2 separate regions of the Homo sapiens genome follow, and region 2 is linked to region 1. Evidence: fine-mapped expression QTL. A gene starts in region 1. The other region holds a variant in brackets. All regions are shown on one strand. Distances are between the middles of the regions.

Region 1 (16,163 bases):
TAGATATTTAATTCTCCTTAACTTACCTGATGGTTCCCAAAGACGTTAGTTGCCAAATCTGCAAATATCCCTGATAAGCATTGAATGTTTCCAAATTTCCTTTAATTGTATTTAAAGAGATTTCCTGCCAGGCATGGTGGCTCACACATCTAATCCCAGCACTTTGGTAGGCTGAGGCGGGAGGGCCACTTGAACACAGGAGTTTGAGACCAGTCAGGGCAACGTAGGGGGACCCCCATCTCTACTAAAAATTAAAAAGTTAGCTGGGGGTGATGATACATGTCTGAGGTCCCAGCTGAGTGAGGGAGGCCGAGTGAAGAGGATAGCTTGAGCCCAGGAGGTCGAGGTTGCAGTGAGCGGCAATCAGGCCACTGTACTCTAGCCTTGGCAACAGAGCAAGACCTTGTCTCATAAATACATAAATATGTTTCCTTTATCCACCAAGAGTGATCTGAGCCTCATTCCTTCTTCCTTTTTGTTAATTTTATGCTTCCAATATTGCAATGTAACCTTTGTATCATCTGTTTTTGTTTTTTTTTTTTTTTTGAGACGGAGTCCCGCTCTATAGCCCAGACTGGAGTACAGTGGGATGATCTGGGCTCACTGCAACCTCCACTGCCCGGGTTCAAGCAATTATCTTGCCTCAGCCTCCCAAGTAGCTGGGATTACAGGCACATACCTCTATGTCCAGCTAATTTTTTGGTATTTTTAGTAGCGATGGGGTTTCGCCATGTTGGCCAGAGTGGCCTCGAACTCCTGACCTCATGATCTGCCCGCCTCAACCTCCCAAAGTGCTGGGATTACAGATGCCCCCATATCTTTAACTTCTGTTTTTCTACTGAATCCCTTCTTCGGCATTTAAACATGTTCAAGTTTCTCCGAGCTACACAGACACTCCTCTCCTAAACTTCCTGGGACCCCCTCCTTCACCACTACTGCCTATCCCTTCCCCTTAGCTATGAACCACTGAGAAAAGATCATCTACATCTATGTCTCCTATCTCCTCACCTCCAGCAACTCCTCAGGCCACCCCAAACTTCTGTTTTCCTTCACCGTTCTCAGCTGCTTCTGTTGCTAAGGCCACAATGACCCCTTTGTTGTTAGATCCCAAAGGAATTCTCATTATTCATCTGACATGACTCTTGAAGTGGAAAGCTTTGAAGTATGCTTGGAACAACCTGGACATGTGAATCTTACTTTACAGCTGTGAACCCTAGAAAATCTAAATATGGCCAGGCACGGTGGCTCACACCTGTAATCCCAGCACTTTGGGAGGCCGAGGCGGGCAGATCATGAGGTCAGGAGATTGAGACCATCCTAGCTAACACAGTGAAACCCCATCTCTACTAAAAATACAAAATATTAGCCATAATATTAATACAGGTGGGTGTGGTGGCACACACCTGTATCCCAGCTACTCAGGAGGCTGAGGCAGGAGAATGGCGTGAACCTGGGAGGCGGAGCTTGCAGTGAGCCGAGATGGCGCCACTGCACTCCAGCCTGGGCGACAGTGCGAGACTCTGTCTCAAAAAAAAAAAAAAAAAGAAAAGAAAAGAAAAAAAAGAAAATCTAAATACGGGGCAAGTACATCTGATAACATTCAACTCGCAAATTGAGATGTGCCATCAGTGGAAAGTACGAACTGGATTTCTGGAACTCATTACAAAAAACAAAAATCATTTAAAAGGTCTCATGTGGAGTCCTAATAAGATAAGTAACCAACAACAAGGAAAGGGCCCCTGGTTGGGGGAGAACAATTGTTCTGAGAGATGGCTAACTGCAAACAACCCACTGGCATGACATTCTGTTCCAAAAGACCTCGGTCTGCACATAGTCCCAGGAACACGACCTTATCTGCACACCTCACGTGCACATAGCCGCCTCCAGCACGACCCTATAAAATCCCCTCCAACCTCTGCCTCTTTGCAAATGGCCCCTTCTCTTCTGTGCTGCCTGTTGCATCCTTGCAACCTATCTTCATATCTTCTCTAATAAATCTGTCTTTCTTTACCTACGACTGTCTTGGGAAATTATTTTACCACCAACAATGCCAGCCCCAGCCAGTCGCACCTAAAACGTCTCAATAATTTTTACATTGATTGCATGCACACATGAGAATATGTTGGCCATCGCAGGTTAAAATAGACTTTTAGAATTCATTGTGTGTGGCATGCCATCTGTGGCTGAGGTGCTATATTGGTGCTTATCTAGGAGTTATCACCAGACAGCCTGTGTTCTGTGCATGCTTGGTTGTTTGCAGAGTTGCATAGCCTTCAAAACATTTACTATCTCAATATATCCATGTCCTCGGGAGAGGGTTAGGCAATATGCAGTTTGTTTCCATGGGACATCTCCATCCTTAGCAATTCCTTTGGGGATTATTTGACATCTGTCATTTCCACAGGTGGCCTTGCCCTGGAGGAAGGTGATAGTGGGGCTGCTGATCTTTTTTTTTTTTTTTTTTTTTTTTTTTTTTTGAGATGGAGTCTTGCTCTGTCGTCCAGGCTGGAGTGCAGTGCAGTGATGCGATCTCGGCTCACTGCAACCTCTGCCTCCTGGGTTCAAGCGATTCTCCTGCCTCAGCCTCCTGAGTAGCTGGGACTACAGGTGTGCACCACCACGCCCAGCTTATTTTTTGTATTTTTAGTAGAGACGGGGTTTCACCATGTTATCCAGGATGGTCTCAATCTCTTGATGTCATGATCCGCCCGCCTCGGCCTCCCAAAGTGCTGGGATTACAGGCGTGAGCCACCGTGCCTGGCCAGGGCTGCTGATCTTCTGGGTAGAATTTCAGCCTTGCTGTCTCCTGTGTATAAGGAACTCTGCCTGCTCCATCTTGGTCCCTTCCAGTTGTTTCACTTCAAGTTTCTTTACCTCCTTCTCTTCCTTACTAACCAAAATATGGAATGAAATATTTAGTAGCAATTATTTTATGCGTCATCTGGTTAGGTGGAAGCTACTAGTTGTTTTTACTCTAGCAGAATTAAGGTAGCCGGAAGTGACTATCAGAGTATAAAGTATCCTCAGATCTCAGGTACTCTGTGGGAAAGCAAGAACTTGTCTTGTCCATGAGGCCAGTGTGAAGGGTGAGGGTCTTTATCCCTGTCACAAGGCTTGAGGCAAAACTTTGCACTCTGCCTTCTGCCCTCCAGCCAGAGAAGTTTCTAGCCACCCCCATTCGAGGCAGAAAGGGTCCAGGCATTAAGTGGTTGTCGAGCCCTGGAATTTTATATTCCTAGACTTTGTGGGTTACAACATGGATACACACTGCCGACTTCATTCTGCAGCCAGCTTCTCACATCTAACAATATATCCCGATTGTAATTTAATATAACTAAATGTACATTGACATTGTTGTTTTAAGGCCCATGAATGTCATTTCATACGGCTACACCAGTACTTATTTTGCCATTGTTACTAATCTTCTGTCATATTAAATAGGAGGTAGATGATCAATCCTTTTTAACAAGGTTCAAACATTTCTCTGATTTAGATCACTGTAAAATTGCTGGGTTGATAAATATGCACATTCGTACAGCTTTGGGTATATGTTACCAAGTACCTGCTGAGAAACTGGTACTTATCAATGCTGCTAGCAGAGGGCGAGGTCATTCATTTCTTCATGTCTTGACAAACTGGCCATTTAAAATGTTTTGCATTACTTGAGAGGCACAAACATAATGCCATTATTTTAATTTATGCCTCTTTGCTAATTAGAGTATTGGGCAGTTGTATGTATTTGTAAAGGAGTGTGTGGTTCATAGCCTTTGTCTTTGATGATGTTTTTACTGGCTTGTTCATCTTTTGCTTATTTATCCAAAATATTCTTTATGTAATAATGATATGAGCCCACATGTCATAGATTTTTACAATTATTTATCCCCAGTTTGTTTTGCCATTTAATAATGTGATGGTGTGGAAAATTAAGATACACTTAAGCTGGATACGATGGGGTCATGCCTAAAATCCCAGCACTTTGGGCAGCCAAGGCAAAGGGATTGCTTGCGCTCAGGAGTTCGAGACTAGCCTCTGTGGTGTGGCGAGTCCCTGTCTCTATAAAAAATACAAAAACTAGCTGGGCGTGGTGGTGCACGCCTGCAGTCCCAGCTACTCGGGAAGCTGAGGAGGGAGAATGACTTGAGCCCAGGAGGTCGAGGCTGCAATGAGCCATGTTTGCACCACTGCACTCCAGCCTGGGTGACAAAGCAAGATCCTGTCTCCAAAAAAAAAGAAAAAAGAAGAAAGAAGGAGGAGGAGAGGGGGGGAGGAGGAGGAAAAGGAAGAGAAGAAGGAGGAGGAGGAAAGAAGAAAGAAGAAGGAGGAGGACAAGGAGGAGGAGGAAGGGGAGGAGTAAGGAAGAAGGAAGAAAGGAGGAGGAGGAAGAGGAAGAAGAGAAGAACTCACATTTTTGTAGTATTTTACTTTTTCCACTTTTCTTCTATTATTTTGAGGAAGAAGCACTCATATTTATGTAGTATTTTATTTTTCCACTTTTATTCTCTTATTATGCCTAACTGAAGAATTTATGTGTATAATTCTACATTTTTTAAATAAAAACTTTATTGAGCTACCATAATATTCAACCTTTTAAAGTGTACAGTTTTTACACTTTTGTGTAAAATGGTTTTTAGTACATTCACACAGTTGCGCAATCGTCACCACTATCTAATCTTATTTTCATCTAAAATGAAATCCATACCATTACCCACTTCCCCTCATTTCCCTTTTCCCCAACATTTGCCACTAATCTATTGTCTCTTTGGATTTTCTTATTCTGGAAATTTTATTTAAATTGAATTATACAAAATGTGGGTTTTTTATGAGTGGCTTCTTTTACTTACCGTAATGTTTTCAAGGTTCATCCATGGAATATGTATTCTGTTTAATGGATGAATAATAATCCGTTGTGTGGATATACCACATTTTATTTATCCATTCATCAGTTGACTGATATTTGGGACATACAAAATTTTGGGCTATTATGTATAATGCTGCTATGAACATTCATGTACAAGCTGTCATGTGAACACATGTTTTCATTTCTCTTGGGCATATACTGGAAATAAAATTGCTGGGTCACGTGGCAACTCTATGACTTTTTGAGGAACTGCCAAACTATTTTGCAAAGTGGGTGCACCATTTTACAATCCTGACAGCAATGTATAAGAATTCCAATTTCTCCTTGTCTTTGCCAATCTTTGTTATTGGCTATCTTTTTAATTTTAATTATCCCAATGGGTGTGAAGTAGTATTTTATTGAAGTTTTGATATTAACTTCCCTAATGATTAATGGGGCCGAGCATCTTTTCATGTATATATTTGCCATTTGTGTATCTTCTTTGTAGAAATGACGATTCGAACTCTTTGTTCATTTTTCAGGCTGGGTGCAGTGGCTCACACCTGTAATCCCAGCACTTAGGGAGGCCAAGGTGGGCAGATCACTTGAGGTCAGGAGTTCAAGACCAGCCTGGCCAACATGGCAAAACCCTCTCTCTGCTAAAAATACAAAAATTAGCCAGGCGTGGTGGTGAACGCCTGTGGTCCCAGCTACTTGGGAGGCTGAGGCAGGAGAATCGCTTGAATCCAGGAGGCAGAGGATGCAGTGAGCCAAAATGGTGCCACAGCACTCCAGCCTAGGTGACAGAAGGAGACTCCACCTCAAAAAGAAAAAAAAAAAAAAACTCTTTGTTCACTTTTAATTGGGTATCTTTTTATTGCTGAGTCGCAAGCCTTTATATATTTTGAATACAAGTCATGTATCAGATAAATCATTTGTAAATGTCTTCACCCAGTCCATGTTTGTCTTTTTTCTTGATGGTGTCCTTTGAAGCATCAATGTTTTTTAATGTTAAGTCCAATTTATATATTTTTTCTTTCGCCACCTGTTTTTGATGTCATATCTAAGAAACAATTGCCTAACCCAAGATCACAAAGTTTGACACCTATGTTTTCTTCCAAGAAGTTTATAGTTTTAGCTCTTACCTTTAGGTCTATGATCTATTTTGAGCTCACTTTTGTACATGGTGTGAAGTAGAGGTCCAATTTCATTCTCTGTTTTTTGTTTGTTTCTTGGTTGGTTGGTTTTTTTTTTGTTTTTTTTTGGTTTTGGTTTGTTTTTTTTTTTTGATGGAGTCTCGCTCTGTTCTCAGGCTGGAGTGCAGTGGGGTGATCTCGGCTCACTGCAATCTCCACCTCCTGGGTTCAAACGATTCTTCTGCCTCAGTCTCCCGAGTAGCTGGGACTATAGGCGCCCGCCACCACGCCCAGCTAATTTTGGTATTTTTAGTAGAGACGGGGTTTCACCATGTTAGCCAGGATGGTCTCGATATCTTGACCTCGTGATCTGCCTGCCTCAGCCTCCCAAAGTGCTGGGGTTACAGGCGTGAGCCACCACGCCCAGCCCAATTTCATTCTTTTGTATATTGGCATCTAGTTGTCCCAGCACAATTTGTTGAAGAGAACAGTCTTTCCACAGTGAACTTTCCTAGTATATTGAATTTTGAACTTGTTCATTTTTGCTTAAACTTCCTTCAGCCACCTGAAAATGGATATTTTTGGGAAGCAGAGATCTAACTATTTTTTTCTGAAAGGACGGGTGCATGAAACAATATCATTCATTGAAAGTATTTCTTCCTGGCTGATTTTAAATGTTACCACTCTCTTACATAAAATTTTTTCCCTTTGCACTTACCAGTATCTTTTTTTGTTTATGGTTTTTGGTTTTTGTTTTGTTTTGTTTTTTGAGATGGAGTCTTGCTCGTCACCCGGGCTGGAGTGCACCGGCTGCAATCTCGGCTCACTTCAACCTCCACCTCCCGAGTTCAAGCTATTCTCCTGCCTCAGCCTCCCAAGTACCTGGGATTACAAGGCATCCGCCACCACGCCCGGCTAATTTTGTATTTTTAGTAGAGACGGGGTTTCACCATGTTGGCAGGCTGGTCTCGAACTCCTGACCTCAGGTGATCTGCCTGCCTCGGCCTCCCAAAGTGTTGGGATTACAAGCGTAAGCCACCAGGTCCAACCAGCACTTAGTGGTATCTAACGCACCAACCCACCATGTATTCTATTTATCACATTCACTGTCCATTTCTCCTGCCCAACTCACAACTAAAATGCACGTTCTCTGAGGGCAAGGACGTTTACCTATTTTGTTCAGTCTATATCCATGGTGTATAAAACAGAGACTTGTTGGGGGGGAGGTAATAGCATTTATTCCATGAATATGACTACGGCATACACACATACACACACATACATGTCCACACTATATCTGGAAAGATAGAGGAGAAAATTATTTTTGCCTCTGAGCAAAAGAACTGAAAGACCGTGGTGGGAGAATATTTGACTGACTTTGTACCATTCTTAAGTTTTCCTATATGTGTATCTATGACCCAGTCCTCTCCTGCTCCCCTAAACTCTTAGTGTTAAATCACTATGTTCTGCCTTGGGAAAGCAAGTTATAGACAAATGTGCATACATAATCTGATCCTATTGGGTTGTATGAACATGGGGCAGTAACTGTATCAACAATCTAGGGATCCAAGGAAGGCCCTACCCCTGAATCTGATCTCCCACAATCCTGGCTCCTGGGCCTATCCCAACCCACCCACATCATACACCCTTTTATTCATACCCAGATCCCTGCCCCTGGAACTGGTCTCCACCCACTGCCCCCTCCCCAGGCCTGGTGCAGCCCACAGTCCCGCCCCCAGAACTGGTCTCCGCCCACAGTCAGCCCCGCCCCCAGGCTTGCTGCCACCCCATAGCTCCGCCCCTAGAACTGCTCTCTGCCAATCACCACTGCCCTCCAAGACCGGTACACCCACAGCCTAGTCCCCGCCCTCCGCCCGGCCCGGAGCTTATCTCCGCCCACAGCCAGCCCCAACCTCCAGGGCTGTCACAACCACAGCCTGGTTCCCGCTCAGCCCCGCCCCGGAAATGGAGGTCTCCACCCCTGTAACTGGTCTCTGCTCAGTCATCCCCGCTCTAGAAGCCTTATACCATCCGCCCCGAGAACTGGGCCCCACCCACAGCCCCGACCCTGGAACTGGTCTCTGCCCAATCAGCCTCGCCCTCCAGGCCTGGTACGGCCTCAGCCGGTTCCCCGCCTTCAGCCCCGCCCCGGAACTGATCTCCGCCCACAACCAGCCCCGCCCCCAGGCCTCGTGCGGCTCACAGCCTGGCCCCGCCCCCAGGGCCAACCTTACCCCCGCTACTGCCCCAGGCCAGGGCCCAACTTTGTGCCCACTAAGCAAACTAGAACACCTCTGCCCAAGGCTGGGGTTCGCGGCCGCCGCTCCCGCCCGCCGCGCCTGTCGCCTAAGCGCCGAACCCCCAACACGCTCGACTCTGCGAGGCTGCCCGCGCGAGCCGGAAGGGGACGTGCAGCGCACCTCTCCCCAGACCGGAAGCGGAAGCGCGGGGCGGTACCGTGGGAGGGGCCGCGCGTGGGGCAGCGGGGAGCGAGTCCCTCCGTCCCCGCGAGTCGGCGCTTTTGGCCCCGCGGGAGGGGCCGGGCTCGGTGAGCGACTGGCGGGGGCTCGGGTCCGAGTCCAGGGGGCGACGTGGGCCGCGGACACCGCCAGCCACGGGCCCTGCGTCCCTCCAGGGAGCCGTGTTTCGGTTCATGAGGCCTCGGGCTGTGAGCTTAGGTCAGCACGAAGCTGCTGCTTGCTCCTGGGTCGGGGCCCCGCGCCGCTGTTGCCTCCTCAGGGAACCCCAGTCGCCCTCACCCGGGGCGATTCCGCACCCCAGGGGACTTTTGGCTGTAGCTGGAGACGACTGTGGTTTTCACAAATTGTGGGGAGGGGAGGCTGCTACTGTCACCTAGAGGGTGGAGGCCGGGGAAGAGGGACGCTGCTTGCTCTTAAAGATCCTACGTTGTACAGGACAGTCCCCCACAACAAAGAATTATCAGTAGTGCCAGGTTGGGAAACCCTGCTCTAGGGCCTTAAAAAAAAAATCTCTGCAGTTCTGAATAAACTACATAAATTGTTAAAAATTCAGTTTAGTCACTTAATAGGGCCTCTAAGTGACAAGATATTTTTAAAGCCTGTGGAGTCACCATAGAATCTCTCTCCAGCGTAGTAAGTTGAGCAAGTCAAATGCACACAGCGTTAAGCTGCTTTCTCCCCTCTTACGGAGCAGATGGCCAGATGGGAATCAGGTAAAGCCAGTCATGGCCCACAGGCTGGGCCCTTATTACACATTTAATCATTGAGTACCCAAAAAAAGTGAATGGGATGGTGTTTCCGGCAGCCGTATCCAACAACTGTACAACCTATACAAAGCCTCGAAAGAAATCTTTGTGTCTTTTTTTTTTTTTCAGATGAGAAAAGCATCATTCAAGCTCAGATTCGTGTTGAAGCCTGCCACAAGGTCCACCTGTTGTTGTGGGTTTTTGGGTGACCAGGTGAGTACAGTGTGGAACCTACAACAAGGTTTCAGCAGGCTCTGCTGTGTAGAAGAACTCCTCGTGGGCTTTTCCTGTGCTGGGGTTGTAACCACATTGAAGTCACTAAGAGTGAAGGTATCTTAAGGAAAGTTCAAGGTAAAAAGACAGAGGTGTTTATGGTTACATGTGTGTAAATAAGTAAATACAGTTACATGCAAATAAGTATCCACAAAACAAACATACAAATAACGTAAAGATGTGTAACTGTAGCTAAAGACAGATTTTCTGGTATGCCGTAATGCTAAAAGTTTCTGAATTTTATATAAGTATAGAAAATATTTACATGTATATGTAGTGTTACAAGTCTTCCCACTAACAACTAGCAGGACTACTTAGCAACATTTTTCAGGCCTGTTTGATTTGACTTTTTTTTTTTTTCTTGAGACCAAGTCTCACTCTGTTGGCCAGGTTGGAGTGCAGTGGCGCGATCTTGGCTCATGTCAACCTCCACCTCCCAGACTCAAGCAAATCTCCTGCCTCAGTTTCCTGAGTAGCTGGGACTACAGGCAAGTGCCACCACGCCCAGCTAATTTTGTTTGTATTTTTAGTAGAGACAGGTTTTTGCCATGTTGGCCAGGCTGGTCTTTAACTCCTGACCTCAAGTGGTCCGCCCACCTCAGCCTCCCAAAGTGCTGGGATTACAGGCAAGAGCCACCGCACCCAGCTGTTGATTTGATTTCTAAAGGCATATTGGCCCTCCACCAAACTTCAAAATATAAGGGCATTTGTAAAAAGGATGATTTATTAGTAACAAATTTAAAATTAAATTGACCGGCGACCAGATGTGTTTTGAGTAATGGGATTTTTTTTTTCCTAATGAGATTTGAAAACATTTGGAAGAATATTAAGCAACAACTTATAGATTGAAGGGTAGGGAACTGGTTTCCAAAAAGATTGTCCTCTGCACCTTGCCTCCTGTATTAGTCCTTTTTCACACTGCTATAAAGAACTACCTGAGAGTTTTCACACTGCTATAAATAACTCCCTGAGACTGAGTGACTTACAAAGGAAAGAAGTTTAATTGACTCAGTTCTGCATGGCGGGGGAGGCCTCAGGAAACTTACGATCATGGCAGAAAGCAAAGGGAAAGCAAGGCACGTCTTACATGGCAGCAGGAGAGAGAGAGAAGACATAAACGCCAAACTTCTAAACCATCAGATCTTGTGGGAACTTACTATCAGGAGAACAGCAAGGGGGAAGTCCGCCCCCATGATTCAGTCACCTCCTACCAGGACCCTCCTCTGACACATAGGGATTATTACAACTCGAGATGAGATTTGGGTGGGGGGACACAGAGCCAACGATATCACCTCCTAATAGGAATTAACTTTGTTTCTTAAAACTTCTCTGAAATAACAGTATGGTGATTCATATTGCAGAGAATCATGTTAAGTAATCTAGTATTAAATTGTGGGGTTTCTACTAATTGTGTGTGTGTTCACCTTTTCCATTCTAGCTTTCCTACAGCATTCTTGAAGGAATGTTTACTTATCATGCAATAGATATTATTTGAGTGCACAGTTAATGGTGACCAACCATCCTCATTTTTTCAGGACCAAGGGGTTTGCTAGGGCACAGGGCATCCAGTGTTCAAACCGGGACAATCCTTGGCAAACCAGGTCGCCTCCATGAGTCAGGTCCTAGGTCAGATGCACAGGGACCCTGGAGGACCTGAAATGGCCCCTGTCCTACATAAAGTTTACCTTCTAACAGGGAAGATAAATTTTAAACCATGAATGACAGGAGTGATGTGGGAGCTTGGCACTAGTGAACTTGATCAGAGGGAACAGGGAAGCTTTCTTGGGAAGGATATTTAGCTTGAGAGCTTAAGTTGTTACAGAACCAAACTGGGGTCTGCTCACCTGGTGGTGCAGTGAAACCAGATGTCTATATTGAGGGTTGCTACGATAGATAGAAAGGCTTTTATTGCACAGCACTAAGCAAGGAGGACCAGACATTAAATGTTCAAATCCTGGCCTCCCCAGTGGCTTTTAGGCAAGGAATTTTTTTTTTTTTGAGATGGAGTCTCACTCTGTTACCCAGGCTGGAGTACTGTGTTGCAATCTCAGCTCACTGCAACCCCCGGCCTCCCGGGTTCAAGCAGTTCTGCCGCAGCCTCCTGAGTAGCTGGGATTACAGGCGCCTACCACCATGCCCGGTTAATTTTTGTATTTTCAGTAGAGACGGGGTTTCACCATGTTGGCCCGGCTGGTCTTAATCTCCTGACTTCGTGATCCACCCGCCTCAGCCTCCCAAAGTGCTGAGATGATACAGGCATGAGCCACCACACCCGGCCTTTTTTTTTTTTTTAATGAGACAGAATCTCACTTGGTCACCCAGGCTGGAGTGCAATGGCACGATCTCAGCTCACTGCAACGTCTGCCTCCCAGGTTCAAGTGATTTTCCTGCCTCAGCCTCCCCAGTCCCTAGGATTACAGGCACATACCACCACACCTGGCAAATTTTTTGTATTTTGAGTAGAGACAGAGTTTCACCATGTTAGCCAGGTTGGCCTCAAACTCCTGACCTCAGGTGATCCGCCTGCCTAGGCCTCCCAAAGTGCTGGGATTACAGACATGAGCCACCGTGCCCGGCTAGGCAAGGATTTCTGAAGGCAATGGTAAGTTACAGAAAAGCAGAAGCTACAGGCAAAATCATAAAGCAATACATGGAGGTTACACACTGGTTTAGACTTAAAAGGGCAAGGATGTCTTGAAGCAGGAGCTTGTCATAGGTAGATTCAAAGATTTTTCTGATTTGTAATTGGTTAAAGAAAAGAAGCTTTGTTTAAAAATTTAGAGTCAGTAGGAAAATGTTAACTGGCTGGGAGAAGTGACTTTCTCCAAGCCCCTCAAGAAGAAACTTAGCACAAAGAACGCTGAAGCTCAGCCTTCATGTCCCGCTTATCTGGGGTCTCTGAGCCAGCAGCTCCATTTGGTGGGGTCCTCAGTGGGAGTCCCAGCCTCTGAAAGGCAACTCAGGGACGCATGTTAAGATGTTATCTTTAGTTTCCATGGGGAAAGCGAACATCTCTGGAGCCTTAACTTCTTTGGCTGTTGTTTTAGGTTACTATTACCTTCCTGTTTAACAAGTTCCATATTTACTTTTGGGGCTAGCTGGATGCTCGGAATTTCCCTTAAAGGAACTTCAGGATTTTCCTTTATTTTCCCACTTGGGGTTCACAGGCCCCTGAAAAAGGGAATTGCTGCTCCATCTCCAAGTTGGGGTCAGATGTAGCTAGTCATAGGGCTCGACTAGAGTGAGGGGACAGGGTTATGTCCAAGAGAGCACTGCCGTCGAAGAAGCTGTGTAAGGAAAGGCCCTGCAGCAGGAGAGAGGCTGCCACGCTCCCTGCACTGGGAACACAGGGATGGCTGAAGCCGAGACAAGAACAGGGAAAGAAGCTGGGCGCAGTGGCTCACACCTGTAATCCCAGCACTTTAGGAGACCAAGGTGGGCTGATCACCTGATGTCAGAAGTTCAAGACCAGCCTGGCCAACATGGTGAAACCCCGTCTCTACTAAAAATACGAAAATTAGCTGGGTGTGGTGGTGCACACCTGTAGTCCCAGCTGCTCGGGAGGCTGAGACAAGAGAATTGCTTGAACCTGGGAGGCTGAGGTTGCAGTGAGCAGAGATTGCACCACTGCATTCAGCCTGGGTGTAAGAGTGAGACTCCTCAAAAAAAAAAAAAAAAAAAAAAAAGAATAGGGAAAGAAGTGTGACCAAGACCAAGATCAAGAGGGAGGCAGAACCATACTAGGCCTCACTTCAGACTCTGTTCTCAGGCCAGTGGGAAGACACTAAAGAGTTGTGGGCCAGAGGGTGATGCAATTTGCATGTAGTGTAAGCATGCAGATAACAAGGACTTCAGGATTCAGAAGGAAGACATTTAAGAGGCAAAAGAGGGGGTGTTTGGAGGTAGTTTAGGAATCAGATGATTGCTCCCAAAAAAAATAAAATTTATTTTCTCAGCCATACTAGTCACATTTCAAGTATTAGAGCAGAATTATAGAACATTTCCATCATCACCAGAAGTTGTGTTGGGCAGCTGACATAGAGTGGCCCATCTGCTGTGACCATCCTCCAGCACTGTATCCAGGGCAGGGCAGGTGTCACAGGATCTGTAAACTGAAGAGACCCCTCCTGTCCTAGTGGGAAATTTCTGCTTCCAGACAGCCTTGAATAGGGACTTGGGGCCTGAAAATGTCCCAGGTACCTTCTCTACTTGTTTTTTTCTTGGAGGCCCAGTGAGCTGGCTGGAGGCCAACCCCCCCTCACTCCCCAGCTCAGTGACTGGAACTACTGTGTGCCTACCTGCACATTAGGTCTGTTACGGGGAAAAAGGAGATACTTCCCCCTGTAGAGGGTAGGGAAGTTCTGCAGCAGTTGCCTGGGTCTGCTGAACTCACCCAAAGGGAAGGTGTGATGTGAAAGGCATGTTAGTTTCCTATTGATGCTATAACAAACTACCACAAATTCAGGGACTTAAAACAACACACATTTATCCTCTTGCCTTGCTGGAGGTCAGAAATCCTCAATAAGCTGGAAGGCCTGCATTCCCTCTAGAGCAGGAGTCCCCAGCCCCTGGGCCACGGACCAGTGCTTATAAACAGGGCTGCACAGCAAGATGTGAGTGGCAGGTGAGCGAAGCTTCATCTGTATTTACAGCCACTCCTCATTGCTCGCATTACCACCTGAGCTCCACCTCCTGGCCGATCAGTGGCAGCATTCGATTCTCATAGGAGCCCAAACCCTATTGTGAACTTTGCATGTGAGGGATCTGGATTGCACACTCCTTAGGAGAATCTAATTCCTGATGATCTGTTGCTGTCTCCCATCACCCCCAGATGGGACCATCTAGTTGCAGGAAAACAAGCTCAGGGCTCCCACTGACTCTATATTATGGTGAGTCGTATAATTATTTCATTATATATTACTGTGTAATATAATAGAAATAAAGTGCAGAATAAATGTAATGTGCTTATAAAACATCATCCTGAAACCATTCCCTGCCCAGCCCCACTGCCGCCCCGTGCTCCATGGAAAAATTGTCTTCCACGAAACCAGTCCCTGGTACCAGAAAGGTTGGGGACCACTGCTCTAGAGGCTCTAGGGGAGAACCCATTTCCTGCGTTTTTCATCTTGTAGAGGCCACCAGCCTTCCCTGACTGTGGCTTGTTCCTCCATCATCAACACCAGCAGGGCAGCATCTTCCAGTCTCTCTGTATGTTATCTCCTCCCTGCTACACACACGCTCCCTTCTTCTCTCATCTCATCCCATCCTTCTTTGAACTGACCCTCCTGTTTCCCTTTTATAAGGACCCCTGTAATCACAGTGGGCCCACCCAGCATCATCCCCCATGTCAGGATCCTTGCCTTCCTCACAGCTGCAGAATCCCTTTTGCCATGTAAGGGAGTAGATCCAGAGGTTCTGGGGATTAGAACACAGACCCCTTTCTTGGGAGAGCAGGAAGTTAATCATCTGTCTACCACAGAGGCCCAAGAGCCAAAGACTCCCTCCAACTTGATTTTTTGACGGAACCCGAACTCACCCTGAATGTCCAGTGCCCCCATCCCTGCCCATTCACACCCTTCACTCCTTTTATCTTTTGGGTTCATGTCATGGAGGTCACACATGGAAACCTCCAGAAGCTGGCTTTATGGAGTTACGTTTTATTCTATAAATCTGGAGAAAGGAGGCTTTCTCGTCTTATAAAAAGGACACATGACATTGCTTTGTACCTTGATTTTTTTTTCACTTAAATTTATTGGAGATAATCTCTCTGAATACCTAGAAATCTTTTCAGGGGTTCTTTGTTTTGGTTTTGGTTTGGGGTTTTTTTTTCCTGGCTACATGTTTCTTTGTTATTTATTAAGTTGCTGCAAAAGTAATTGCAGGTTTTGCCATCGAAAGTAATGGCAAAAACCGCAATCACTTTTGCACCAACCTTAAAGCTATCACATAGTTTATTCACCCAATCCCCTACTGATGGTCACTTGTGGTGTTTTCAATCCTCTGCGATTATATGAAGTGCCACAGCGAATCATCTTACACGTGTCTTTCAGTATTTGTGTACCTTTGAGATAGATTTCTAGAAGTGGGTTCTAGGAAAGAACAAATGTTTTTTGCAGGTTTGCTTGACATCAGCACGTTTCCTTCCCTAGGGGTTACCCCCAGCAGTGTGTGAGAATGAAGAGTGTGGGCCACTGTGTCTCTGTTGACCTGCCAGATAGGAAATAGCGCCAGAGTTGCTGCAATCCACGTCTCCCTGGTGAGTAAGGTCATTGTCGATTCCATCAAGGGTATTGTCCTTGGGATGATAGTAGGGAAGCCAGATTGCACCGTGTGAGGACTCAGGAAAGGGGACAGAGTGAAGAGCTGTGGCTGGGATGGGGGATACAGACGGGGCAGTAACCGGAAAGAAAGCTGTACCCCAAGGATGGGCTCATCGCACTACAGAAGATGCCACATCAGGCTTGAGGGGCATGAGGAAGGGTCTAGCAGCACGGGAGAGCTAGAAGGGAAAGGGCGGAGGAGAGAGCTTCGAGCACAGACAGCTCCTCAAAAGCAGGAGGGTGGACCCCAGGCCAGAACTGCCCAGCAAGCCCTGCGGAGAAGGCAGGCAGCTCCTTGTCTGCGATGGGAGGAGGCAGAAGGGTGGGGCACAGGTTGCAGTGCTGGCAGCAACACAGGAAAGTAGATTCCT
Region 2 (17,033 bases), 27 kb after region 1:
GGGGCTGTTTATGCCCTATCACCCTGAATATCTAGTTGAATATGCTTGTTGCATTTTTGTTCAGTGAGAGTTACCATATGCACTAGAATTAAGGTATAATTGGCAGGGCGTGGTGGCTCATGCCTGTAATCCCAGCACTTTGGGAGGCCAAGGTGGGTGGATCACGAGGCCAGGAGATCAAGAGATCAAGACCTGCCTGGCCAATATGGTGAAACCCCGTCTCTACTAAAAATACAAAAATTAGCCGGGCGTGGTTGTGTGCACCTGTAGTCCCAACTACTTGGGAGGCTGAGGCAGGAGAATCGCTTGAACCTGGAAGGCAGAGGTTGCAGTGAGCCGAGATCATGCCACTGCACTTCAACCCGGGCGACAGAGCAAGACTCCATCTCAAAATAAATAAAAAAAAGAAAAGAATTAAGGCATAATTTATTTCACTGCTCCTAAAGTCACACTTTTCCATCTTCATAAATGTTGGCTTTCTTTCATGGACTTGGTTGTCCCCAGCACTGTTACCTATATCATGTGTATTGTTTCCATAAATAGGGTGTCGTGTTAATAAACCCAGTCTGATATCCCAGTTGGAACAAGACAAGAAGGTGGTGACAGAGGAAAGAGGAATTCTACCAAGCACCTGTCCAGGTGAGCACCAGGTGGATATGAGCCCTTGTGAGGAATAGCTCTGGCCAGTGACTTGGGGGTTGGGAGTATTACATTAGTTCATGTCAATCAGGGAACTTTGTAAAATACCCTGTTCCTGACAAACATGCACGAGAACATTTGGTGTGAGCTTCCTCATGTCCTTTCTTTTCTCTCTAACTCCCTTGTCATCATCTCATACTTCACTTTGGGCTCAGGGAAGAAACAAAGATGCAACTCTTTTGAAAATTTCAGTCAAGTTCCTTTCCACTTTGCATTCCTGATCACTCCTCTTGTCAATCTGTGATCAATCTCAATTTGTCTAGAATCCTTTTTTAAAATTAATACCTAAAATTTTCATAACCAAATCCTCTTTGTTGCAAACATCCTCAAAAACCCTGATCCCTCAGAATCTGCCTTTACTCATGTGTACACTTTTCCATTTCTTTTCTCCATCAACCTAAATTTCTTTTCAATTTGTTTCAGATTTGGAGACTCTACTTAAAGCCAAATGGTTAACTCCTAAGAAGAATGTTTTCAGAAAAGAACAGTCTAAAGGTGTAAAAACGGTAAGACTAACATGGGTGATTTCTGGTTTTCTACAGTAGGAGAATGCCTTAAGTTTAGAAAGGGCACAAAATAACCAGGAGAGGCATTAAAGGAAAGTGTCATTTATAATTGAGAATGCTGTGTTCCTGGAGAGACACTGTGAAAATTATAAATATTTAGAGAAGTGTGAGTTAGCTCCAAACTTATTTCTTCACGGAGAGTTCCCACAAGTAAATATTTCCTATCTGTGGCTCAGATATTGACTGTTGGAACAAAACTTCATCCACACGTTATCAGAAAATGTTTTGTGCATCTGATAAGGACTTGTGGCAAAGCATCTATGTTTTTTAACTTTCTTAGAGCTAAAACTGGGCAGAAATCACATACAACCACTGAAAGTAGCCAAAATATCAATTATAATAATGTAACAGAATTCCTGGGAGAGAAGATTCCTAGGAGAACATTAAGTATTTCAAATATTATAAATTATAGTTATCATTCATCTCTTAATCCACAGGAAAGAAGTCATCGTGGAGTGAAACTCAATGAATGTAATCAGTGTTTTAAAGTCTTCAGCACGAAATCTAACCTAACTCAGCACAAGAGAATTCATACTGGAGAAAAACCCTATGACTGTAGTCAATGTGGGAAGTCCTTCAGTAGCAGATCTTACCTTACTATTCATAAGAGAATCCATAATGGGGAGAAACCCTATGAATGCAATCACTGTGGGAAAGCATTTAGTGATCCCTCATCCCTTAGACTGCATTTGAGAATTCACACTGGAGAAAAACCCTATGAATGTAACCAGTGTTTTCACGTTTTCCGCACCAGTTGTAACCTCAAAAGCCACAAGAGGATTCACACGGGGGAGAATCACCATGAATGTAATCAGTGTGGAAAAGCTTTCAGCACAAGGTCCTCTCTCACTGGGCACAATAGCATTCATACAGGGGAGAAACCTTATGAATGTCACGATTGTGGGAAAACCTTCAGGAAGAGCTCCTATCTGACACAGCACGTAAGAACTCATACTGGAGAAAAACCCTATGAATGTAACGAGTGTGGGAAATCCTTCAGCAGTAGCTTTTCTCTTACTGTGCACAAGAGAATACATACCGGAGAGAAACCCTACGAGTGCAGTGACTGTGGAAAAGCCTTTAATAATCTCTCAGCTGTGAAGAAACACTTAAGAACTCACACTGGAGAAAAACCCTATGAATGTAATCATTGTGGGAAATCCTTCACAAGTAACTCCTATCTTTCTGTGCACAAGAGAATACATAATAGATGGATATGAATTACTGCAGGAACTTCTGGAGGAAAGCACTCATTGATCTTTCATCCCTAAGATAGTTTGAGAGAGCTCACACTGGATATATAAGTTATTTGTTGCAGCATAACAAATGATCCCCGCAAATTTTGTGGCTTCAAACACGAAATGTTTATTCTCTAACAATTTCTACAGATCAGGAATTCAAGAACAGCTTATCTCTGTAGTTACACTGCAGGATCTCTCATGCCTTTACTTACAATCAAGATGTCAGCCAAAGCTATAGTCATCTAACATCTTTACTGATGAACAGTCCACTTCCAAGATGACTTATTCACATGCCTGGAAAGTTGATGTTGGTTGTTGTCAGGGGACCTTCAGTCATTACCATGTAGGCCTCTTTACAAGGCCCAGCTCCTTGACAATTTGGCAATAAGTTCTCGCCAAGGTTAGTGATCCAAGAGAGGACCAATACAGAGGCCAAAATGGCTTTTATGACCTATCCTCAGGAGGACTGCTAAGCTTTCACTTATTTCCTATTGTGTTGGTCTCACAACACACCAATCCTGATACAATGTGAGAGACTGCAGAAGGTATGAATACCAGGAAACAGATAACTCAGAAGCATCTGGGAAATTTGCCATGGAATTAATGAAGAAAAGCCCTCAGCACATCATCCTTCTACTCTAATCAATATGAAATAGCATTCAGTAACTCCTATTAATTCACTCTGAAGAGAAACCTTTTGAGGACAATCTGTATGGTAAAGCTCTCAGCTCGAATTCTCACCTTCATGGGCCCAGAAGATTATGTACTGAGAGAATCCTGAAGAATGGAACAGCTGTAGAAAGCCTTCAGTGCTATCAGCAGGGATTCATGTGACAGCTCACACTAAGGGAGAAAACCTGTGAAGGTCTCAGAAGGCTTCAGTGACAGTCATCCCTTAAGACGCACTGGAAATCACACAATGGAACAACACTCAGAAATGCGGAATACCCTACAGCAAAAGTGTTCACATTACTGAGCAAACTATAGTGTGGTATTCTGCAGTGACTATGGGAAAGCCTTGAATGTTCTATCGGTTTTTAAGGGACTTGAGAATTAATTCTGGAGAGAATGCCCCATTGAACATCATCAATATTGGAGAGCTTTCTGTTTTTCTACATTTGTTAGGAAACTTGTGAGCATTCACACTACAGAGAAACTTGAAATATAAAGAAGAAGAGAAAGCCTTCAGTGATGCCTCTGTGTTAGGGAAAATATGGAACTTCTCCCTGGATGCAAAACCTATGAGTATATTAATATTGGAAAATTTTTCAGTGATTCTTCTCTTTCTTGTATATGAGAGAACTTATATGGAGAAACCCCTAGGAATGTAATCAGTGTTAGGATGCCTCAGCCTGAACTCTTCACTGAGTGGCCACAATTTTCACTGGGAACAAAAAGTATAATCACTGTTTTGAGTGTGGGATATCCTTTATCAGTGTCTCATCTGTAGATTGGACTGCTGGCTCATTAATTTTTTTAGTCTTTTTTTCTTTTAATATAAACATTTGTGTATAGCTGTTCCCTAAAATAAACATTAACATATTTCATAATTTTAATGCAATGTATTTATTATAATTAATTTGCTTGTTAAAGACATCCACACATTGCATATTCAAAAAGTTATTTCCAAATACCTTCTGAGTGATTCAGTTTATCATAATGGAAATTAGTATTTATAAACACATTTTTCTAATGTAGTGGTATTTTTGGCAGAGTACATGAGCTTTATGATACTGATTATTTTCTCTCTATCTTGGTATGCCAAATACTGTTGGTTTCTTTCCCAGTGTCCGTTCTCTTCAGTTTATTCGTTTAAAGAAACAAACATGTTGTTCAAGTTGTCTGTGAACAATATCGAAAGTTCTCAATCTTATAGTTTTTCCTGAAGCCCAGGCGGGTTTTTTCGCACTCCCCTGGCAATGAGAAGTAAGTCGAAGTCACTGTGTGGAACATCTCCTGGCTTGTTCTCCTCACATATTTTCCATTCACCTCACCCATTCTGTCTCTTGGAAAGTGGCCTCAAGGTCTAGAGTTTGAAGAGCTTCTTTTTGACCACAATGACAGAAACCAAAGTGCAGCCAAAAATCACAATGCTTTGGGCTCTCCAGGAGCCTCCGATTGGCTGCATCTGCTCTGGACTCCTTATTCTTATACTTCTTATGTGACTAAAAGAAACCCCTAGGCTGGGTGTGGTGGCTCACGCCTTTAATCCCAGCACTTTTGAGAGGCTGAGGTGGGTGGATCATGAGGTCAACAGATTGAGACCATCCTGGCCAACGTGGTGAAACCCTATCTCTACTAAAAGTATAAAGATTAGCTGGGTGTGGTGGTGCACACCTGTATTCCCAGCTACTCGGGAAACTGAGACAGGAGAATTGCCTGAACCTGGGAGGTAGAGGTTGCAGTGAGCCAAGATGGCGCCAGTGCACTCCAGCCTGGCAACAGAGCGAGACTCCATCTCAAAATAAACAAATAAATATTTTTAAAAAAAGAAACCCCTAACTGATTGAAGCCAACATGATCTGTTGTTTGTTTTTGAGGTGGTGTTCTGTTAACTTCCAGCAGGATGCAGAATCTAACTGGTAAACCTATAAATTGGTCAAGTTTTACCCATGTTGTTTCTTTGAAAACAATGTATATTCTCTAATATTTGGATATAGGGTATATGAACATTAATGCAACTTAATTGTATTTCCAAGTACAGTACGTATGTTCAGATTTCTTTTTCTAACCTTATTTAGTGATAGAGGTGTGGTAAACTCTTCCATTATGTTTATGTATTAACACTGTAATTTTGTCATTTTTATATATTTTGACATTATGTAACTAGATGCATACAGGATTAGGTATTCTGTATTCCTTTTTATGTGGAGATGATATTTTTACATAGCAAAGTATTGTAATGCATTAATAATAAATGGTCAAACATTTATTTATTTATTTATTTATTTTAGATGGAGTTTCACTCTTGTCATCAAGGGTGGAGTGCAATGGTGCGATCTCGGCTCACTGCAACCTTGGCCTCCCAGGTTCCAGCAATTCTCCTGCCTCAGCCTCCTGAGTAGCTGGGATTACAGGCACCTGCCACCACGCCCAGGTAATTTTTTTATATTTTTAGTAGAGATGGGGTTTCACCATGTTGGCCAGGCTAGTCTCGAACTCCTGATGGTCAGACATTTATATTGCACTTCCCATAGATCAGGCCCCCTTCTAAATGACATATAAGTATTAACTCAGTATGCATTATAAACTTAAGTATGTAATGTTATTATCCCCAGTTTACAGATGAGAAAACTGGTATGATACACTTAAGTTACTTGCCTGCATTCACTGACTGGTAAATGGTAGAGCCAAGATCTGAACCCAGACAGTCCATGCACTTAACCACTACCCTATTAACGGAGTATGTTCTGTGTGCCAGGCAAAGTTTTGCCATTGAAATACTTCACCTAATGGAGGAGGAACAGATTATAGAAAAATCAAGAAAATATGGTATTATAGAGTTATAGGAAAAAAAAGCATTTTAGGAGAGTTAAGGGGGGTTGGGAATAATAATTTTATATAACTAGGAAAAGAAAGCCTCTTGGTAAGGAGCATTTGAGCGGAGATCTCAACAAGTTGGGACAGTGAGTCATATGAATTTGTCTTGCAAGAGTAGTGTTGGCATGCAAAGGCCCACAACAAGGAGGCCAATACAGCTGGAGTGGAACAAAGGGGTGATGAGGGAGCAGTAAAAGATGATGTGGTCAGAGACATGGTAGATCCTGATCTTGTTGGGTTTTCTGAGACATTGTTAGGACTTTTCCTTATTTCAGTGAGTTGGCACATCAGTCAGGGTCCCAGCAGGAACTCAGGTTGACACCCACAGACTAGGACAATTCAAGTAGAGTTTTCATAAAGGGTCTACTCAGTCCTGTGGACAGGATCCAGGGAAACCACAAAAAGTTGTAAAGCACCCAGCAGCTTAGCAGGGCAGAGCTCTAACACCTCACAGCCTGAAGGGACGAAGGGAGGGAGCAACTGAATCTGGAGACGAGAGGAGAGGGCTGCATTCCAGGAGCTGAGAGAGGTCAGTCAGCGATAGCATCCAGCCCCAGGTCCTCCTGCAGGAAATAGCCAGGGTCAGACCTCACTCTCCTTCATCCATTGAGACAGGAAAATATCCCCATTTATGAATATATAAATCAATAGCAGATCCAGAGACAATTTGGGTATTGGAGTTAGCAGACAAAGACTTTAAAATAACCAAGAATAATATGTTAAGGGAAATGGAGGAAACATGGACAAACCATAGAAAATGAGAGACAAACTGCAAATCTACCAAACAACCAAAGAAGAAGGACACATTGCTTTCAAAGCAGCATCAGTAAGACTAATGATGACTTTTCAAAAGAAACTATGGAAGCAAGAAGACAATGAATGACATCTGACATATAAAGGGTTAAATGGGTTGGAGGAGGGGGAAATTGTCAATCAAAAGTTCTGTAACCTAAGAAAATATTCTTCAAAACTGAAGGCAACAATGTTTTCCAATGGGAGGGAATATTTTTTTTTTTTTTTTTGAGATGGAGTCTCACTCTGTCGCCATGCTGGAGTGCAGTGGCATGATCTCGGCTCACTGCAACCTCCTCCTCCTGGGTTCAAGTGATTCTCCTGCCTCAGCCTCCTGAGTAGCTGGGACTACAGGTGTGTGCTACCACGCCCAGCTAATTTTTGTATTTTTAGTGGAGACAGGGTTTCACCATGTTGGCCAGGATGGTCTCGATCCTTTGACCTCACATGATTTGCCCACCTCGGTCTCCCAAAGTGCTGGGATTACAGGCGTGAGCCACCACGCCCGGCCTGGGAGGGATTTTTTTAAGCTGAGAGAATTAACAGCATAACCGTATTTTCAGAAACACTGAAGAGATTTCTTCAGGCTTCAGGAAAATGATTCCATAGAGACATACATAATTCCAGGAATT[A/G]AGATCAACAGGAAACATAAGATGCAAGTAAATATAAATCAGTACTGACTGTATAAAACAACCCTGTATAGTTTTACAACTTTTATGTATATCTAAACTTTCCAAAATAAAATGCTTTTAAAAACACATTGCATTGATCTCCCCAAACTAGAGGTGGTGGAAAGCACTGCAGGAGATTTCTCCCCCAACACACACAAACACACAAGACTAGTGATTATGGAAGGCCCAACAAGTGGTGCGTATAGTCTGCATCCAACAATAGAGATGATAGAAGTCCTAGTAAGGGGTCATCAGGCCCCTCCAAAACTAGAGGCAACAAGACCTCAGTTAGCAGGTGTCATCCCCAAACACAAAAGATACTGAGAAAGCAAGACATCCATCCTCCCAAAACTAGAACTGATGGAAATTTCAATAAGCACCTCCAGTTATGTCTGATACTTGAAATGACAGCAATCCCACAAGTGACTTCCTCAGCTGCCCCTCAGCACTAAAGAATGAGGATCCCAAGCCCAGTGACCTACCTCATCTATACCAATAATAAGGAAGACCCAGAAAGTGACTCTAGTAACCCCCTCAACACTAGATAAAATAGGTTAAAAGAGACCCTTCCAAACCCACTGGACAGAGATAAGTGGACCCCCACAGAATAACAACCCATCTTCTTCCCAAACTAAGACAATGGGACCTCCATCCAGGTACACTTCCCTGACTCCCCAATATTTAAAAAATGGGAGTCAAAGGTAGTGATCCTCCAGGCCCTAAAAAACAGGAGCTCGTACCTCCAGCCTCTTAGTTACACCCCTCAACACAATGAGGATTCCATCAGATGAGAACTTCAAGTGACCCCCCTATATTCCTCTAACATTAGATGAAGGAAACCCAAAAAGGCAATTTCCAATCCCCTACATACTAAAGAAAGCTCCAAATTCCACAACACTCTCACTCAACACAAACCCTAGCTTGCCTCCCTTGTCTCCCCAAGAGCAGACACAAATATCCCCAGCAAGGATACCACAGCCTTCCCCCAATACAATCATGAGAATCTCAACAGGCAACCCGCCAGGTTCTACCTCTCATTCGATTATTACAAAATAAGAGTTGACAGAAGCATCAGGAAGCAACACTCTCAACATAAATGAGGAGAGCCCACAGTGTGAGTCCCTCAAGTCTTCCCTAACATAAGATGACTGCCCCTTCAGTGAGCCCTCTTTATTCCAAACACAAGAAACCAGCTGAGCCCTAGTAGGCAACTCTTCAGCTTGCTCTTGCAATGCAGATGTCTGTCCCCACCTGATAGCAGATACGTAGAGCCCCATCAAACCAAGTGTCTCCTTTCCCAGGGAATGTTAGAACATGGAAGACAACAGTAGTCCCAACATGCCAGCATATGCCCCCAAGCTCCCATAATACAGGAGGTGACAGGAGCCCAGGAAGCAAACCTTCCCCCAACATTTTCTGCACCCAGCAGACCGCTCTTATAGGCTGCATTCCCAGCTGACCCTCAGAGCATCAACTGCTCAGAAAGGCCCTGAGAGGAAAAGGAAGGGTGAAGCTGGGGGTGAGGCTGAGAAGAACAGAGAGGGGAGAAAGGGGAAAGGAAACCTTGCAACTTATCCCAAACACAGCCATAAAAATGCCAGAGGCCCCAGACAGCTACAATGAAACCAGGCTCTACAGCAGAAAAAAAAGATAACAGGGGGTGGGGATTTCTGGGCTGATGAGGTGGTCTGGAGGAAAGGTGGATGTGTTCGCTAGCCTTCAAGATGCTCACCAAGGATCCTTGCCACCTGAGATTCCTGTCCTGTGTAGCACCCCACACACACCCCAATATTTAATCAGATGACCCATATAATCAATACAGTGCTGCTGCTGAAGTGACCATGTGTGGCATCTCAGGCCAGGTCATAAGACACACTGAAGCTTCCTCGGTTTCTTCAATTGCTCCCTCCCTGGAGAAAGCCATCCACCATGCCATGAGGACACTCAAGCAGCGCCGTGGCAAAGGACCAACTTTCCAGCACCACATTGCTAGGCAGAAGATGAGCCACCTTGGAAAGAGATCTTCCAGCCCCAAATTTTGAACTCTAATTAATGATATGTATGTTAAAAATGTTTAGGGGAGAAATCTATTGCTGTCTGCAAACTACTTCAAAATGCAAAAAAAAAATAAAAATAAAGATGGGTTGATGAATGATACAGAGATCAATGTGGTCAGGCAAGTATAATAAAGTATCACTGATGGAATCTAGATGGTAGATTATATTAGTTTGGTAGGGCTACTATAAAATACCACAGACTTGCTGGTGAAAAGTAGAAATTTGGGCCAGGCCCAGTGGCTCACACCTGTAATCCAGCACTTTGGGAGGCCGAGGGTGGTGGATCATTTGAGGTCAGGAGTTCTAGACCAGCGTGGCCAACATAGCAAAACCCCGTCTTTACTAAAAATACAAAAATCGTGTGGGCATGGTGGTGCATGCCTGTAGTCCCACCTACTTGGGAGTCTGAGGCAAGAGAATCACTTGAACCTGGGAGGCAGAAGTTGCGGTAAGCCAAGATCGCACCATTGCACTCCAGCCTGGGCAACAGAGTGAGACTCCATTTCAAAGAAAATAAATAAATAAAAAGTAGAAATTTATTTTCCCACAGTCCTGGAGGCTGGAAGTCCAAGATCAAGGGGCTGGCAAGGTTGGTTTCTCCTGAGGTCTCTGCATGGCTTGCAGATGGCTACCCCCTTGCTGCCCCTTCTGTCTGTGCACCACAATGCTTCTTGGTCTATTATGTCCTAATTTCCTTATAAAAACACCAGCCAAACTGGATTAGGGCACACCCTAAAAGCCTCATTTTAACTTACTTAATTGCCTCTTTAAAAGCCTGATCTTGGCCGGGTACGGTGGTTCATGCCTGTAATCCCAGCACTTTGGGAGGCCAACGTGGGCGGATCATGAGGTCAAGAGATTGAGACCATCCTGGCCAACATGGTGAAACCCTGTCTGTACTAAAAATACAAAAATTACCTGGGGATGGTGGCACGTTCCTGTAGTCACAGCTACTCAGAGGCTAAGGCAGGAGATCGCTTGAACCTGGGAGGCGGAGGTTGCAGTGAGCTAAGATCGCACCACTGCACTCCAGCCTGGTGACAGAGTGAGACTCCATCTCAAAAAAAAAAAAAAAAAAAAAAAAAAAAAAAAAAAAGCCTGATCTTACACATAGAGTCCCATTCTGAGGTACTGGGGTTAGGGCTCCAGCATATTAATTTGGGGGGTGAGGGGATGGGGACAATTCAGTCTATAAGTGGATGCTCACTTGTAAAATTATTTCAAATTATCTCCCTGTTTGAAAATATTTAATAATAGGATGGGAACTGTAGCTCACACCTTAAGGCCAGTGCTTTGGGAGGCCAAGGCAGGAGGATCACTTGAGATCAGGAGTTCAAGACAAGCCTGGGCAACATAGTAAGACCCCATCTCTACCAAAAAAAAATTAGCTGGGCATGGTGGCATGTGCCTGTAGTTTCAGCTACTCAAAAAGCTGAGGCAGGAGATTGCTTGAGCCCAGGAAGTCAAGGCTGCATTGAGCTGTGATTTGTTCTGTGGAGCAAGATCCTGTCTCAAAAAAAAAAAAAAAAAAAAAAAAGACAGGTAACTGATCTGAAGGTGAAGCTTGGACCAGCAAAAAATGGACCAGAACAACCCAAATGCCCATCAATTTATAAATGAGTGTTTTTAATGTGATATATTCATACATTGTGTATTATTCAGCCACAGAGGTGGGAAGGATGTGTCTACATGAATGAAAACCTTGTGCTAAGGGAAAGACGCTACTCACAAAAGACCAACTATATGTAATTCCATTTCTATGAAATGTCAAAAATAGATAAATCTATACAGATGGAAAGTAGATTAGTGGTTGCTTAGGGGGAGTTGGACAGGGAAAATACAGGGATATGGTTCAAGTTCTATTCAGTTCCTTTTCGTAATTTCTATCTCTTTATTGATACTCTTGATGTTCTCTATATGTTGAGTGTAAGAGTTGAAGAAAGAAACAGGAAAAGCAGCTCAACAGTCAAAGACAGGTTTATTTTGGGAATAAACCTGAGAGGGGCTTCTGGCCAATTTAGGTCAGGAGTATTCTCTCTTACAGACTAAAACTATTTAAGAGTTTAGGGGCTGGGCACGGTGGCTCATGCCTGTAATCCCAGCACTTTGGGAGGCCGAGGCAGGTGAATCACGAGGTCAGGAGTTCGAGACTAGCCTGACCAACATGGTGAAACCCTGTCTCTACTAAAAATAGAAAAATTAGGAGGGAGGAGCCAAGATGGCCAAATAGGAACAGCTCCAGTCTACAGCTCCCAGAGTGAGCGACACAGAAGATGGGTGATTTCTGCATTTCCATCTGAGGTACTGGGTGCATCTCACTAGGGAGTGCCAGACAGTGGGCGCAGGACAGTGGGTGCAGTGCGCCGTGTGCGAGCTGAAGCAGGGCAAGGCATTGCCTCACTCGGGAAGTGCAAGGGGTCAGGGAGTTCCCTTTCCTGGTCAAGGAAAGGGTGACAGACAGCACCTGGAAAATTGGGTCACTCCCACCCAAATACTGCGCTTTTCCGATGGGCTTAGGAAACGGCACACCAGGAGATTGTATCCCGCACCTGGCTCGGAGGGTCCTATGCCCATGGAGTCTTGCTGATTGCTAGCACAGCAGTCTGAGATTAAACTGCAAGGCAGCAGCGAGGCTGGGGGAAGGGTGCCCGCATTGCTCAGGCTCACTTAGGTAAACAAAGCAGCCAGGAAGCTCGAACTGGGTGGAGCCCACCACAGCTCAAGTAGGCCTGCCTGCCTCTGTAGGCTCCACCTCTGGGGGCAGGGCACAGACAAACAAAAAGACAGCAGTAACCTCTGCAGACTTAAATGTCCCTGTCTGACAGCTCTGAAGGAGCAGTGGTTCTCCCAGCATGCAGCTGGAGATCTGAGAACAGGCAGACTGCCTCCTCAAGTGGGTCCCTGACCCCTGACCCCTGAGCAGCCTAACTGGGAGGCACCCCCCAGTAGGGGCAGACTGACACCTCACACGGCCGGGTACTTATCTGAGACAAAACTTCCAGAGGAACGATCAGACAGCAGCATTCGTGGTTCATGAAAATCCGCGGTTCTGCAGACACGGCTGCTGATACCCAGGCAAACAGGGTCTGGAGTGGACCTCGAGCAAACTCCAACAGACCTGCAGCTGAGGGTCCTGTCTGTTAGAAGGAAAACTAACAAACAGAAAGGACATCCACACCAAAAACCCATCTGCACATCACCATCATCAAAGACCAAAAGTAGATAAAACCACAAAGATGGGGAAAAAACAGAGCAGAAAAACTGAAACTCTAAAAAGCAGAGCGCCTCTCCTCCAAAGGAATGCAGTTCGTCACCAGCAACGGAACAAAGCTGGACGGAGAATGACTTTGACGAGTTGAGAGAAGAAGTCTTCAGACGATCAAACTACTCCGAGCTACAGGAGGAAATTCAAACCAAAGGCAAAGAAGTTGAAAACTTTGAAAAAAATTTAGACGAATGTATAACTAGAATAACCAATACAGAGAAGTGCTTAAAGGAGCTGATGGAGTTGAAAGCCAAGGCTCAAGAACTACGTGAAGAATGCAGAAGCCTCAGGAGCCGATGCAATCAACTGGAAGAAAGGGTAGCAGTGATGGAAGATGAAATGAATGAAATGAAGTGAGAAGGGAAGTTTAGAGAAAAAAGAATAAAAAGAAATGAACAAAGCCTCCAAGAAATATGGGACTATGTGAAAAGACCAAATCTGCATCTGATCAGTGTACCTGAAAGTGACAGGGAGAATGGAACCAAGTTGGAAAACACTCTGCAGGATATTATCCAGGAGAACTTCCCCAATCTAGCAAGGCAGGCCAACATTCAGATTCAGGAAATGCAGAGAATGCCACAAAGATATTCCTCAAGAAGAGCAACTCCAAGACACATAATTGTCAGATTGACCAAAGTTGAAATGAAGGAAAAAATGTTAAGGGCAGCCAGAGAGAAAGGTCGGGTTACTCACAAAGGGAAGCCCATCAGACTAACAGCGGATCTCTCAGCAGAAACTCTACAAGCCAGAAGAGAGTGGGGGCCAATATTCAACATTCTTAAAGAAAAGAATTTTCAACCCAGAATTTCATATCCAGCCAAACTAAACTTCATAAGTGAAGGAGAAATAAAATACTTTACAAGCAAGCAAATGCTGAGAGATTTTGTCACCACCAGGCCTGCCCTAAAAAAGTCCCTGAAGGAAGCACTAAACGTGGAAAGGAACAACTGGAACCAGCCCCTGCAAAATCATGCCAAAATGTAAAGACCATCAAGACTAGGAAGAAACTGCATCAACTAACGAGCAAAATAACCAGCTAACATCATAATGACAGGATCAAATTCACATATAACAATATTAACTTTAAATGTAAATGGACTAAATGCTCCAATTAAAAGACACAGACTGGCAAATTGGATAAAGAGTCAAGACCCATCAGTGTGCTGTATTCAGGAAACCCATCTCACGTGCAGAGACACACATAGGCTCAAAATAAAAGGATGGAGGAAGATCTACCAAGCAAATGGAAAACAAAAAAAGGCAGGGGTTGTAATCCTAGTCTCTGATAAAACAGACTTTAAACCAACAAAGATCGAAAGAGACAAAGAAGGCCATTACATAATGGTAAAGGGATCAATTCAACAAGAAGAGCTAACTATCCTAAATATATATGCCCCCAATACAGGAGCACCCAGATTCATAAAGCAAGTCCTGAGTGACCTACAAAAAGACTTAGACTCCCACACAATAATAATGGGAGACTTTAACACCCCACTGTCAACATTAGACAGATCAATGAGACAGAAAGTTAACAAGGATACCCAGGAATTGAACTCAGCTCTACACCAAGCAGACCTAATAGACATCTACAGAACTCTCCACCCCAAATCAACAGAATGTACATTTTTTTCAGCACCACACAACACCTATTCCAAAATTGACCACATAGTTGGAAGTAAAGCTCTCCTCAGCAAATGTAAAAGAACAGAAATTATAACAAACTGTCTCTCAGACCACAGTGCAATCAAACTAGAACTCAGGATTAAGAAACCCACTCAAAACTGCTCAACTACATGGAAACTGAACAACCTGCTCCTGAATGACTACTGGGTACATAATGAAATGAAGGCAGAAATAAAGATGTTCTTTGAAACCAATGAGAACAAAGACACAATATACCAGAATCTCTGGGACACATTCAAAGCAGTGTGTAGAGGGAAATTTATAGCACTAAATGCCCACAAGAGAAAGCAGGAAAGATCCAAAATGGACACCCTAACATCACAATTAAAAGAACTAGAAAAGCAAGAGCAAACACATTCAAAAGCTAGCAGAAGGCAAGAAATAACTAAAATCAGATCAGAACTGAAGGAAATAGAGACCAAAAAAACCCTTCAAAAAATTAGTGAATCCAGGAGCTGGTTTTTTGAAAGGATCAACAAAATTGATAGACCACTAGCAAGACTAATAAAGAAAAAAAGAGAGAAGAATCAAATAGACACAATAAAAAATGATAAAGGGGATATCACCACCGATCCCACAGAAATACAAACTACCATGAGAGAATACTACAAACACCTCTATGCAAATAAACTAGAAAATCTAGAAGAAATGGATAAATTCCTCGACACATACACTCTCCCAAGACTAAACCAGGAAGAAGTTGAATCTCTGAATAGACCAATAACAGGAGCTGAAACTGTGGCAATAATCAATAGCTTACCAACCAAAAAGATTCCAGGACCAGATGGATTCACAGCCGAATTCTACCAGAGGTACAAGGAGGAACTGGTACCATTCCTTCTGAAACTATTCCAATCAATAGAAAAAGAGGGAATCCTCCCTAACTCGTTTTATGAGGCCAGCATCATCCTGATACCAAAGCCGGGCAGAGACACAACCAAAAAAGAGAATTTTAGACCAATATCCTTGATGAACATTGATGCGAAAATCCTCAATAAAATACTGGCAAACCGAATCCAGCAGCACATCAAAAAGCTTATCCACCATGATCAAGTGGGCTTCATCCCTGGGATGCAAGGCTGGTTCAATATACACAAATCAATAAATGTAATCCAGCATATAAACAGAACCAAAGACAAAAACCACATGATTATCTCAATAGATGCAGAAAAGGCCTTTGACAAAATTCAACAACCCTTCATGCTAAAAACTCTCAATAAATTAGGTATTGATGGGACATATCTCAAAATACTAAGAGCTATCTATGACAAACCCACAGCCAATATCATACTGAATGGGCAAAAACTGGAAACATTCCCTTTGAAAACTGGCACAAGACAGGGATGCCCTCTCTCACCACTCCTATTCAACATAGTGTTGGAAGTTCTGGCCAGGGCAATTAGGCAGGAGAAGGAAATAAAGGGTATTCAGTTAGGAAAACAGGAAGTCAAATTGTCCCTGTTTGCAGACGACATGATTGTATATCTAGAAAACCCCATTGTCTCAGCCCAAAATCTCCTTAAGCTGATAAGCAACTTCAGCAAAGTCTCAGGATACAAAATCAATGTACAAAAATCACAAGCATTCTTATACACCAATAACAGACAAACACAGAGCCAAATCATAAGTGAACTCCCATTCATAATTGCTTCAAAGAGAATAAAATACCTAGGAATGCAACTTACAAGGGACGTGAAGGACCTCTTCAAGGAGAACTACAAACCACTGCTCAATGAAATAAAAGAGGATACAAACAAATGGAAGAACATTCCATGCTCATGGGTAGGAAGAATCAATATCGTGAAAATGGCCATACTGCCCAGGGTAATTTATAGATTCAATGCCATCCCCATCAAGATACTGATGACTTTCTTCACAAAATTGGAAAAAACTACTTTAAAGTTCACATGGAACCAAAAAAGAGCCCACATCGCCAAGTCAATCCTAAGCCAAAAGAACAAAGCTGGAGGCATCATGCTACCTGACTTCAAACTATACTACAAGGCTACAGCAACCAAAACAGCATGGTACTGGTACCAAAACAGAGATATAGATCAATGGAACAGAACAGAGCCCTCAGAAATAACACCACATATCTACAACTATCTGATCTTTGACAAATCTGAGAAAAACAAGCAATGGGGAAAGGATTCCCTGTTTAATAAATGGTGCTGGGAAAACTGGCTAGCCATATGTAGAAAGCTGAAACTGGATCCCTTCCTTACACCTTATACAAAAATTAATTCAAGATGGATTAAAGACTTAAACGTTAGACCTAAAACCATAAAAACCCTAGAAGAAAACCTAGGCATTACCATTTAGGACATAGGCATGAGCAAGGACTTCATGTCTAAAACACCAAAAGCAATGGCAACAAAAGCCAAAATTGACAAATGGGATCTAATTAAACTAAAGAGCTTCTGCACAGCAAAAGAAACTACCATTGGAGTGAACAGGCAACCTATAAAATGGGAGAAAATTTTCACAACCTACTCATCTGACAAAGGGCTAATATCCAG

What was found.
Region 2: its variant is fine-mapped to the expression of ZNF558 in whole blood (TOPMed, PIP above 0.99).

Annotation. Positions count from the first base shown.
Region 1 is chr19:8,824,567-8,840,729 of GRCh38, reverse strand. ZNF558 (zinc finger protein 558) reads left to right here and starts at 8,426. Exons shown (of 10, transcript NM_144693.3): 1 at 8,426-8,521; 2 at 9,329-9,412; 3 at 15,622-15,728. It overlaps MBD3L1 (methyl-CpG binding domain protein 3 like 1), which reads right to left and starts at 8,353. Exons shown (of 3, transcript NM_001393532.1): 1 at 8,208-8,353. RefSeq lists silencers at 7,617-7,876, 8,377-8,646.
Region 2 is chr19:8,796,733-8,813,765 of GRCh38, reverse strand. It overlaps ZNF558 (zinc finger protein 558), which reads left to right. Exons shown (of 10, transcript NM_144693.3): 8 at 544-639; 9 at 1,123-1,205; 10 at 1,703-7,596. The coding sequence ends at 2,485. Among named protein-coding and RNA genes, the nearest start is that of ZNF558, 27 kb to the left of the region's middle. The variant A/G (reference allele first, on the strand shown) is at 7,471.